Regions from separate parts of the Homo sapiens genome. Here region 1 is linked to region 2. The links come from fine-mapping of genetic effects on gene expression. Tissue or cell type: whole blood. Region 2 holds a variant in brackets; the other region holds the start of a gene. All regions are shown on one strand. Distances are from middle to middle. Region 1 holds the start of TMEM252 (transmembrane protein 252). Region 2 holds the start of LOC124902174 (a long non-coding RNA gene).

What was found. PIP is the estimated chance that this variant, and not a neighbour inherited with it, causes the effect.
Region 1: it holds the start of TMEM252, and the variant in region 2 is the best candidate, but not a certain one, in a credible set for the expression of TMEM252 in whole blood (TOPMed, PIP 0.66).

The regions. Positions count from the first base shown.
Region 1 is chr9:68,538,064-68,543,446 of GRCh38, forward strand. It overlaps TMEM252 (transmembrane protein 252), which reads right to left and starts at 2,820. Exons shown (of 2, transcript NM_153237.2): 1 at 2,474-2,820. The coding sequence starts at 2,751. TMEM252-DT (TMEM252 divergent transcript) reads left to right here and starts at 2,962. Exons shown (of 5, transcript NR_187592.1): 1 at 2,962-3,167; 2 at 4,315-4,579.
Region 2 is chr9:68,498,855-68,504,237 of GRCh38, forward strand. It overlaps PGM5 (phosphoglucomutase 5), which reads left to right. Exons shown (of 11, transcript NM_021965.4): 10 at 373-507. LOC124902174 (a long non-coding RNA gene) reads right to left here and starts at 1,830. Exons shown (of 2, transcript XR_007061565.1): 1 at 1,166-1,830; 2 at 27-599. The variant T/C (reference allele first, on the strand shown) is at 2,221.

The DNA.
Region 1 (5,383 bases), 39 kb after region 2:
TTTCTCAAATGATATCAACTGACAACTTTACACAGATTTCAGTTGTAGCCCTTTCTATGCCAGTAGGCTAAAGCAGCCATTCATTCGGGGGCTGATGTACTCATTGGTCATCTTGCCTGGCATTTCTAATTGCTAAATCCTCCTGGCTTCTCCATCATGAATGAATTTGGGGGAAGGGGAGAGGGGAGGAAGAGAGACCGGTGAGCTTGGCTGAGTTGTGTATTTATAGAGTGATCCTTCCAGTGCCTACAGGGAGTGTTTATGGTGTGTAACCACAACAGAACAGGGACTGCCATTTGTAGCCACAACTCCATTCCAAATGTTACCAGGCCCAAAGCCAGTAGCTGAAGAAGCTGTCTACTATAAGGCATAAATCTCAGCCTTCGCTCAGAATAGCCAAGGCTGAGTCACGGGGCACATGTGTAAAGGCATTTTACACAGAAAGGTGAGATGTTCCCTGGAGTGATGTGAAAGGTTCCAGGATGACTGCTGCCTGCCCCAAATCCCAGCTACCTCTCCCAACCCCACCCTCCTTCAACTGCCATCCATATTCCCAGTCCCCTGAATTCCATCATCGGAGACCCATTTGCTTTGATATCTCAACCTGGGTATCCATTTTGAGTGCAAATGCTTTGGAGAAATGTGACTTCCCAGGCTGACTTGCCAGCCATTCTGCGTGGGATAAGCATCTTATTACATGCAGCGAGAAGAGGCAGTAAAATGGGGGTGTTACGATGTCCATAATTTACTTTCAAACATTTCAGTATACTGTAATATTATGCAGTGTTAGTCAATTTAAGCTATATCCTAAAGGCAATCAGTTACATTTATCAGAAATTCACACTCTAGAGGTAGTCCTCTAACATTTATACAAAAAGAAATCATCACTCTAGAGGCATCTTCTACAATCACTTCATTTCTCTTAATTTTTAATCAAACCCAGAAACTCTGCTGGTTAGTATAACATTGGAAATAAGTTTTGGTTTTCATAATTATTATCTTATTAATTAGCATAAAGGATGCCAAAAGTGGATGCTCATGGGTAAGATTACTTATATTCAAGATACATGGAGTAGCTAAAATATTTTAGATACTTTCTACTCTTGCACGAAGAGGGCAAAATAATTATAGTCTTGTAGCCTGTATCTTGAGAATGATGCCTAGGGTGTTATCCCTAAATGGTCCTGTGGCTAGCCAAGAATTAGGAGGTTTCTTGTTGCCTGATACTGACTATAAGATTAACTGAATCTTTTTTTTCTTGTGGTAAAATATATATGACATAAAATTTACTGTTTTTAAGTGTATAGCTCAGTGGCACTAAATACACTCATATTGCTCTACAACCATCACCTTAAAACTCTCTACTCATTAAACAATAGGTCCCCAGTCTCTCCTTCCACCAGCCCCTGGGACCACTGTTCTACTTTCTGTGTCTGTGAATTTGACTACGCTAAGTACTCATGTAAGTGGAATTATACAATATTTGCCCTTTGTAACTGACTTGTTTCACTTAGCATAATGTTTTCAACTTCATCCAAGTGGTGGCATGTGCCAGGATTTCCTTCCTTTTTAAGGCTAATATTCCATTGCATGTATATACCACATTTTGTTTATCTACTCACCTGTTGATGGACATTTGGGCTATTATGAATAAATGTTGCTACAAGCATTGGTGTACAAACATCCATTTGAATCCCTGCTTTCAGTTCCTTTGTGTATAAACTCAGAATGTAGAATTGCCAGATCAAACAGTAATTCAATATTTAATGTATAGAGGAGTCTCCACACTGTTTTCCACAGTGGTTGCACCATTTTAACATTCCCACCAGCAATGCACAGCGTTCCAATTTATTGACATCCTCACCAACACTAGCTGTTTGGTTTTGTTTTTTGATGATAACTATCCTAATGTATGAGATGGCGAGAAAGAATGAATCTTGCCTCTAGAATATTATCACCTTCCCCTGAAGGAATGTTTTATGCAAGGTGAGATCACAACACCTAAAAGGACAGTAAACTGGGACTTTTCTGAGCTCACAGAGATTCCAGGACTCATTTTATGCCTGCTTCTTCATTTGTTGTGTGGCAGAATTTGGTCTGGGACTTGCTTTCCTTAGAACCTCATAGCCAGGTTATGGGAAGTAACTAACCATCACCTGCCACTAATTAATGACAGCTGCCATGATATAACAAAAGAGCCTGGGTTTCTAAATTGGCTTAGGTGGGTTTTCACTGGGGGTGGTGGTAGGGTTTCTCTGAGATGAGTTGCCCCTGCGTCATGGTTTTCCCCAAAGATGGCGCCACTCTTCCTAATAACAACCCCAGAGTAATTCCCTGACAATAAAGCTTTGGTTCTAGACAGACAGCCCATGGGACATGTAAGTCGCTCCATAGTAGGATCAGAAATTACTCAGATCTTACACAACTCAGCCCATCTCAGCCCTTCTTGGTCCCTCTGCCTGTCAGCACGTACCTGTCTACTGTGGCCACGGGCAGGGCCCCATGAGCAAGGTGTTGTCGGAGCATGTGCCTCAACACTCCTTTGCTTTCAGTCACCTGGCGATAGTTGCTCCAGAAAATTCCACTCAGAAGGATCACAAACCCCAGAGGCAGAAGCAAATAGGCCGCAATCAGGCTCCCCTGACAGTCGAATATGGAGCCCCAGGAAATGAAGAAGGCCCCCAGGCAGACCATCAGGAAACCCATCAGGAGGGCAAGAGCACAGAGAATGAGGCCAGTTCTGTTCTGCATCCTTGCACCTTAGGAACCCAGCACCCTGACCCTGCTGCTCCTCTGCTTCCCTGCTTGCTCCAAGAGAATGAGCTCATTAGCCAGCTTGCAGCTTTATATGCTCTGGGACCCACTGGCCTTTGGACAACTAAATGAAACAGGCACTTAGAAGCTATTCATTAACCATTGAAAGTAAGTGTAATATCCTTGGAGAATTAGCCAAAAAACATAGCATTGTATACTGCAGGCAGGAGTGGCTTCGTGTAGCTGTTTTGTTCTTCAGAGTTGGGTGGGACACTCAGCTGTTCCCAGTTATTTGAACGTACAGCCCTCCTTTGATTAAAAGGCGCTGGTCTCTTAATCCCCATGGAGGGCAATTCCCCACTAAAAGCTGGAGAAGTTAGCACTCTTTAAAGAACGATCTTCTTTGAGGTTTGGTAAGAAATCCCTTCCTGATTCCTTCTCCCTTTTTCTGTACTAAAAAGGCATTTCTTCAAGGCTGTTAACATGTTTGTCTTGCCTCCCTCAATGAATCCCCACTTATTGCCCCCACACTATGATACTGGCATAATTCCAAGACAGAAGTTCAGAGTGTGAACTTCGTGGTTCCTGCTCTGTTGACAAGATCGAAAGAGCCTGAGTGGGAGGGAAAGGAGAGTGCTGGAGAAAAGGACTATAATAGACAGAGCCTCGGGAATTTGGGGGGATTTTGGGCCTGTAATTCCTGCAATCTTTCCCCCTTTCATAAAGTACATATGAAATAGAATTCGTTTTAGAGGATGCTGCTAAAAATGTTCCCTGTCCTCTCCTCCACACCTCTGCTCTATGTAGCATTGCCTCAAAAAATCTTTCCAGAACCAGCCTTCTGTTTCCTGGCTGGAATTTGTTTTCTTTAGCTTGACTGTCTTTGATTGTGGATAGCTTATTTCAGACGTGCTTTATGCCCTGGCTCTGCCCTTTTTTATTTGATAATGTGGCATGTCTCTGCCAAAAGTCTCCTTCCCATAGGAACCCTGGGTTGCTTTTACTCAGGATAGCTTATCTTCAGTTCCTCTTTGCTGCTGTTCCACTCCACTACTCCATTACCATTATTTTCCATTTACTTTCCCAATGAGAGCAGCAGTTTTTTGTGGCGTGCCCTAATAATCCCTCATATAACCTTTAGTCTCACACTCACCATCTCCTTAGCTCTACCTTCATGTTAGGGCTGGGAGACACGGATATTAGAGAGGTACACACTATGGATCAAAAACTATATAAGGCACTTCTCCATTCCAACCCTTAGCCTTTACCTTTCTTAGCTTCAATTTCGACCTTGAACTACCTTGATCTTCTAGTCTTGATATTGTCTTTGTAATCTTAAAACAGCTCTTATTCCCTCCTTCCCCAAACTGTGAGATGGAATATTTCTAAGATGATCCCTAAGGATCCCACCTCCTGATATTCATGTCCTTGTGTAAGTAATCCTCTCCCCTGAGTGTAGGCTGGACCTAGTGACTTCATTCTAATCAATAGAATATGGTAACGGTGATCGGAAGTTACTTCCGTGGAGGCTACACAAGATTGTGGTTTTCATCTTTCTAGCAGACTCTCTCTATTGTCCTCTTGGCTTACGCCCTTTGAAGAAGGAAGCTGCCATATTGGAGAGGCCCATGAGGCAAGGAATTGAGGGCAGGTTCTGGCCAACAGTCACTGAAGAACTGAGGCCCTTAGTCCGTCAGCCCATGAGGAACTGCATCCTGTCAATGACCACGTGAGCTTGCAATCAAATCCTCATCCCACTGAGCCTTGAGATGACTCTGCTCCCAAGCATCACCTTGACTCAGTGACCCTGAAGTAGAGGACCCAGGTAAGTCATACTCGGATTCCTGACCCACAGAAACTGTGAGATAAAACGTTTCAGCCAGGGTCCTGGATGCCACAAGATGGCAAGAGCCATAATCAATGAATGCATTATGATCAAATCATTTCATGTTTATGGATGTCACTATTTTAACAAATAAAAGAGGTCAAAAGTTTAAAAAAAGTATATTTTAAAAATATGCTAAGTTTTGTGGCCATTTTTTAGATAGCAGTAGATAACTAAAAAAATTCTCTTAGAACTTTGAAAATCAGAAGAGACAATCAATGTTAAGTATTTATCATAGTACCTGGCACAGAGAGTGCCCTGTGAAGGTTATCTATAATCACCATCACCAATATTGTTATTATCATTGCTGTTACAATTCCAAAAATCTGTGGAAGACCCAGGACCCCCAGCTGAAAGGTCTGCACTAGGAGTTGGGTCCCAGGAACAGGTAGATGGTAAAGCCCCAGGATAATGTTAAGAATCAGGTGATGGAGGAAGAGTACTCTCAATCGGAACTGCCCATCAGACAGTTGGGCTTCTCTGTTTTAGACAAAAATGGAGGCAGAAATTAGACTGGGGATTATGACAGGTCAGGCCTCATTCTTGTGATCACATCAACACATGAGTAAATAAGTTTCTCTATACTTTTTCCTCCTCCATGCCAATAAAGTACACTAGAACCATTGCCTTATAGTTTGTCAGACAGTTCCTTCCCCTCCAGTGCCCTTTGAGGAGGCTCCTGTCATTCCACAGCAGTGTTGTTGTTGTGATGGTGGTGGTGGTATGTTTTTGGTGAGAAATTAG
Region 2 (5,383 bases):
AATCCACAGATTTACAAGGGACAAACTTTGGCCCTAGGAATATTTATTGAATATCATTTCATCCCTGTGACTTCCACTTCTTTCTGATTCCCATATCACCAGCCCAAGAGAACTTGAGTATCTGTTCACAGCTTTGCTCCTCTTTCCCCACATTAACCACAAAGCAACGGAAATAGAATAAAGAGACAAATGGGTAACTCTAAGTAGGTTCATCACATTCATTACATGCCCTGTATCCAGAGCCAATATAAATGGTCTTGATTCTGATTGTGTTGAGGTATAAAAACATGCTGATTTCTGTGGCAGGTATTAATGATTATTACTTGTGTATTCATTTGCTCACTGCTCCATTCTGGATGTTCTTGGTCTCAGGGCCTAAGGATCATTTTCTCGGATGCATCACGGCTCATCTTCCGGCTCAGTTCCTCCAGTGGTGTGCGGGCCACCCTCAGACTGTACGCAGAGAGCTACGAGAGGGATCCCAGCGGCCATGACCAGGAGCCACAGGTACAGAAACAGCTGTGCTCCCAGCAGTGTGTCTCGCAGCTCCTGGCAAATTTAGAGAGCTCCATGGGCCTTTAGTGGGGCTATTTTACCTCCTGGAAAGGTACATGATAATTTCAGCTGGAGGACAAGCTCAGGGCAACTCCAAGCAAGTTTAATTCGTTCATTACAGTGTTTGAAACAGAAAAATTGCTCTCTCGCATCTATTTGTAATCCGTTTAGACCAGCATTTCCCAAACAACTGTCCTCTCTTGACTGTTGAGTGGTTTGTTAATTGGGGTAAAGAAAAAGCACCTTTTATAGACAAGGAAATTTAGCGTTAGAGTCAAACTGGTGAAACTCTCAGAGCCTTGACTACGCTTATGTAACTTTTGAATCTCCAGACATTTGGACCATGACCTTGAGGTGCCAATACAGATGGGCTTTGTCTCTGAGATTGCTACATTGTCCACTCTGAGAGGAGAGGATATAGGTGGCCTTTTAAGTTAAGGAAGCACATTGACAAGGCTAAGCCAGACTGTTTGGCAAAGTCTCCTCATGTTTTCAACAATAAGGCTAATTAAGAACTCAGAAAAATCATAAATAACACAACCATAAGCCTCTCCACTCCCACATTCATTAAAGCTCCAGCCAACATTAATTAATACCAGAAATGACTCACTTTAATGTTGGGTACTTCAAGCTATACAGCTGGCTGCTCCTGTCTTCTTGGTGTCTTCAATCTGGGTTTTGAAGCAAGGTCCTTGATAAGATGATTTTTTCAGATGAAAACATTGGTTCTACCTGCCATACTTCCTTTGTGGAAAAGTAGAGAAACAGAGAAATACTCACTGCTACTCATTTTAGAGGTGCTCAGAATTTCTAGCTATAATTTGCCCTGATGGAGTAAGATACCTGGCAGGCTTTTCTTTCTTTGTCAGTAGTTTAGGGGTTTTTTTGTTTTGTTTTGTTTTGTTTTGTTTTTTTCATGGTCTGTTTCTTTGGAGAGTCTCAAAGAACTTGGCAATAATGGGTGCTACAGATCCTTACACCTGACCCTACAGCCAGAAGATCTGTCTGGAGTAAAATCATCCTAGATGGGACAGGAGAGGCTGGAGGAGGCTGAGAGCTATTCTCAGGGTTACCAAGAGCATGAGTGGGCAAAGCAGGTGGCCAGCATGAAGCCCTTGGCTCTTCCTCTCAGGATCATAGCCTTTCCATGCAGGGGATGGGACACACTCTGCCAAAATAATTGGTTAGTGCGTACATTTCTCCCAAGATAGTACCAAATCATGCAAGAATTTGGGGCTTACCCTGTCTTTCCAAATAAAACACTATTCTACATCTCATGTTGGGGAGGGAGATTAAAGCAGGGGCCTAAAAGTCCAGAGCTACGTACGTGAGGAATGATATTCCTGGCCTCACCAACTCTGACTCACTCTGACTCCGGGCTATTTTTTCCTCAACATTCTTTTCCCTATTTGCACAGGGCAAGTGGCTGTGATATTTGCTTATTTTTATTTACCCTCCGCACTGGACTGAGACCAGGCCATTAGACAAGTGTCACAACAATCCTATACACACAAGAGTCTCTCCCTGAGGCAGTCCACAAAAGCAGTGCTTTTTTTTTTTCTTTTCCCAAGGCTTCCTTTGAAGCTGAAAGTCTCCATCAGCCTACTCTTAGAAGGTCATGTGAGTAAAGGAAACATAAGTCATGCTGGTTTTGGTCCCCATGAC[T/C]GCACATTTCTCATCCTGTTGGTGGAAAGAATTTGCCACTTTGAAGGGTTGGCGAATCCCTTCACTGACGTTGCTGTTGGAATTTCTGATTTCCCCTCCCTTCTCCTCAGAAGCAAGAGTTTTCCTAGACCTGGCTCGATGGGCCCCCGAGTATGTAGCACATGATCTAGCTAAAAGTTTTACATTAAAATAGAACTCCTTGTTAAAATACCATACATCATTGACTCACCAACTTAAGCCCTATTGCATAATACATTTGAGTCAGGATATAACATAGAGTAAGATTTTAAAAGAAATCTAACCACCTAGGGGAAAGCAAGAAGATTCTCTCAGCAGGCCAACCTGTCTTAATTACTGCTGAACTCTACCTAAGCCTTTAAGTGGGAGCATTTTGAGGGCTCCTTACAGGGTTGCTTTCCAGGACCACCTGCTTCTGCCTTCTAAAAAGCCTTTGATTAACTGTTGAACAGAGATAAAAGTAAGATGTACTCCTGAAGCTGCTAGTGTTATTCCTGATCAGGGCCTGACTGGAAAGACCTGCTTGTGTTGCTTTCTCAGCTACCAAAAGAACCCCTTCCACCTTCTCTAATCTGCAGAGATTCCATTGCTGATCTTGTTCCAATTCAACAGGTAGTTTTTGATGTTTTACCCACTCTAACCCAATAGCCATCTACACTTAAATTATTTTGCAAGAGAACAGAGAGTTCCCTTCAACTGGCTTATTAATATCTGGCTATTTTACTTTGGCCATGGATAGTTTCTTTTCCAGACATTTTGAACACATGTGAACAGAGCATGTTTTAAGCATTTACACTGATTGCCTTGCAGACATACTCATAACAATCCTAGTGATGCAATTAGGAAAACTTGTGATATAATCTATATGCATTTAGACCATACTCACATGTAGATTTTCCATTTGCATCCTTTTGTAGAACAGTGATTATGCTATTTAAGTTAATATCAATTTCTTATCTACATCAAAAATATTTTTTAAAAATTATATCCATATGTGCCTACGAATTGGTGGTAAGGAGAGGATGGGCCGGGGAGGGCCCTGATGAGATGGGCAGGTTCTTGCCCTGATCCCACTCTGTGTCCTTGGTAAATCAGGAAGGAAAGCTTCCAAAGGCTTGTTGCTGGAAGACTACCTAGTTTTTTAAAATACAAGTTTATTTTAATTTTACCAGCAATCAGTAGGCCTTCAATGAGCCCTCAAACCAGCTGGTAATCATTTGGAAAAAGGAATGAGCCAAAAGGGTTTAAAATCACAGGTAACCAGAAACAGTACAATTGTTTCCGTTTTCTTTCCCATCCAATTTATTAGCAGGGCTGCTATTATTAGCTTCTCGTTGACCTTCTTCCCTTGTCCCTTTCAGCCTGTGGGTGGAGTAGTTAAGGAACAATAGAAGATCCAAAAGGAAAAGGAAGGAGAAGTTTTGTTAAGGGCTAGGAAAATCACAGACTGATAATCAGCCCGTGGCTAATCAACCCTTGGCTTTAGTACTTTCAAGGCAGAATACAGTCACACCCGATCTCACCCCAGTCCTTGGGAGGGGCCTGATTTTCCCCCAGTCTTCCTGAAAATTGAGGAATTTAAGTATTTGTTTGTTTGTTTGTTTGTTTGTTTTTTGAGAGGAAGTCTCACTCTGTGGCCCAGGTTGAAGTGCAGTGGCATGATCTCAGCTCACTGTAACCTCCACCTCTTGGATTCAAGGGATTCTCCTGCCTCAGCCCCCCGAGTAGCGGGGATTACAGGTGACCGCCACCATCCCTGGCTGATTTTGTATTTTTAGTAAGGACAGGGTTTTACCATGTTGGCCAGGCTGGTCTCAAACTCCTGACCTCAAGTGATCCACCCGCCTCGGCCTCCCAAAGTGCTGAGATTACAGGTGTGAACCACCACATCCGGCTTTAAGTATGTATTTTTGATAAACTGTACCTAGAAGGCTTTAACAACTAATACCTAAGAACCAGGTCCCTCATATTTATTCACCTGTCAAACCAAAGGTCATCTGTCATTTTGTTCTACCTGTTCTTAATAAGACTTTGTAATCCAGAAATAAAGTATAGAGCCATTTTGTTTTACATAGGAAGAACATATGATTTGTCATCTAAACCAGAATACAGATGCTCCTAGATTTACAACAGGGTTACACCCCAATAAACCCATCATAAGTTGAAAATGCATTGAATACACCTAGACTGCAGAACATCACAGCTTAGCTTAGCCTACCTTGAACAAACTCAGAACACTTACATTAACCTATGGTTGGGGAAGATCATCTAACACAACCCCATTTTATAATAAAGTGTTGAATATCTCATGAAATGAATACTGTACTGAAAGTGAAAAAATCGGTGTATGGGGACTCACAGTATGGTTTCTACTGAATGTGTATCTCTTTCACACCATCATAAGGTTGAAAAATCATTAAGTCGATCCAGCCAAAGTTGGGGATCTGTACTTTTGTGAGCGAAAGATAATAATTGTAATTATGTTTAGATTGTCCCCAATAAACCAGGAGACATGATTACTCTAGCTACCAGCCTGCATCCTCTCTTAGAACCGCATCTCTTTGGAGATGGCTTTCTAAGAAAACTAGCAATGAAACCTGGAAGGAAAGAGGGAACATACAGAAATGAGAAGAGTCAGCTCAGAGGTTCTCAACCCAGGCAGGCTGCACATCAGAACCACTCAGGCAGCTTGGTGAAAGTACCCATGCTTTGGCCCCAGTCCTAGAGATTCTACTTTAATTGTTTTGAGGTGGGACCTGTAGTTTTTAAAAAATTTCCCAGATGATATTAATTAGACAAGTGCATCTCAAACTAATTACCGGCCAATCACCTTGGGAATGTGTTAAAATGTGGATTCTGACTCAGGTATGAGGAGGGCCAGAGATTTTGCATTTCTAACAAGCTCCCAGGCAATACTGTGCTGCTGGTCCAGGAGCCACCCATTGAATAGCAAAGAGCTAGGTGAACTGTGAAGTGCTAGCAGCAGGACCTTGAATTCTTTAAAACTGTAGAATGAGCAGCACCTGTTTTTAATACCATTCCACACATCGATCTCTGTCTTCTAGACTTCTATTTCTGTTGCTTATTGGATTCCACCTGAATGTCTTATAGACATCACCAACTTGACATGTGCAACACTGATTTC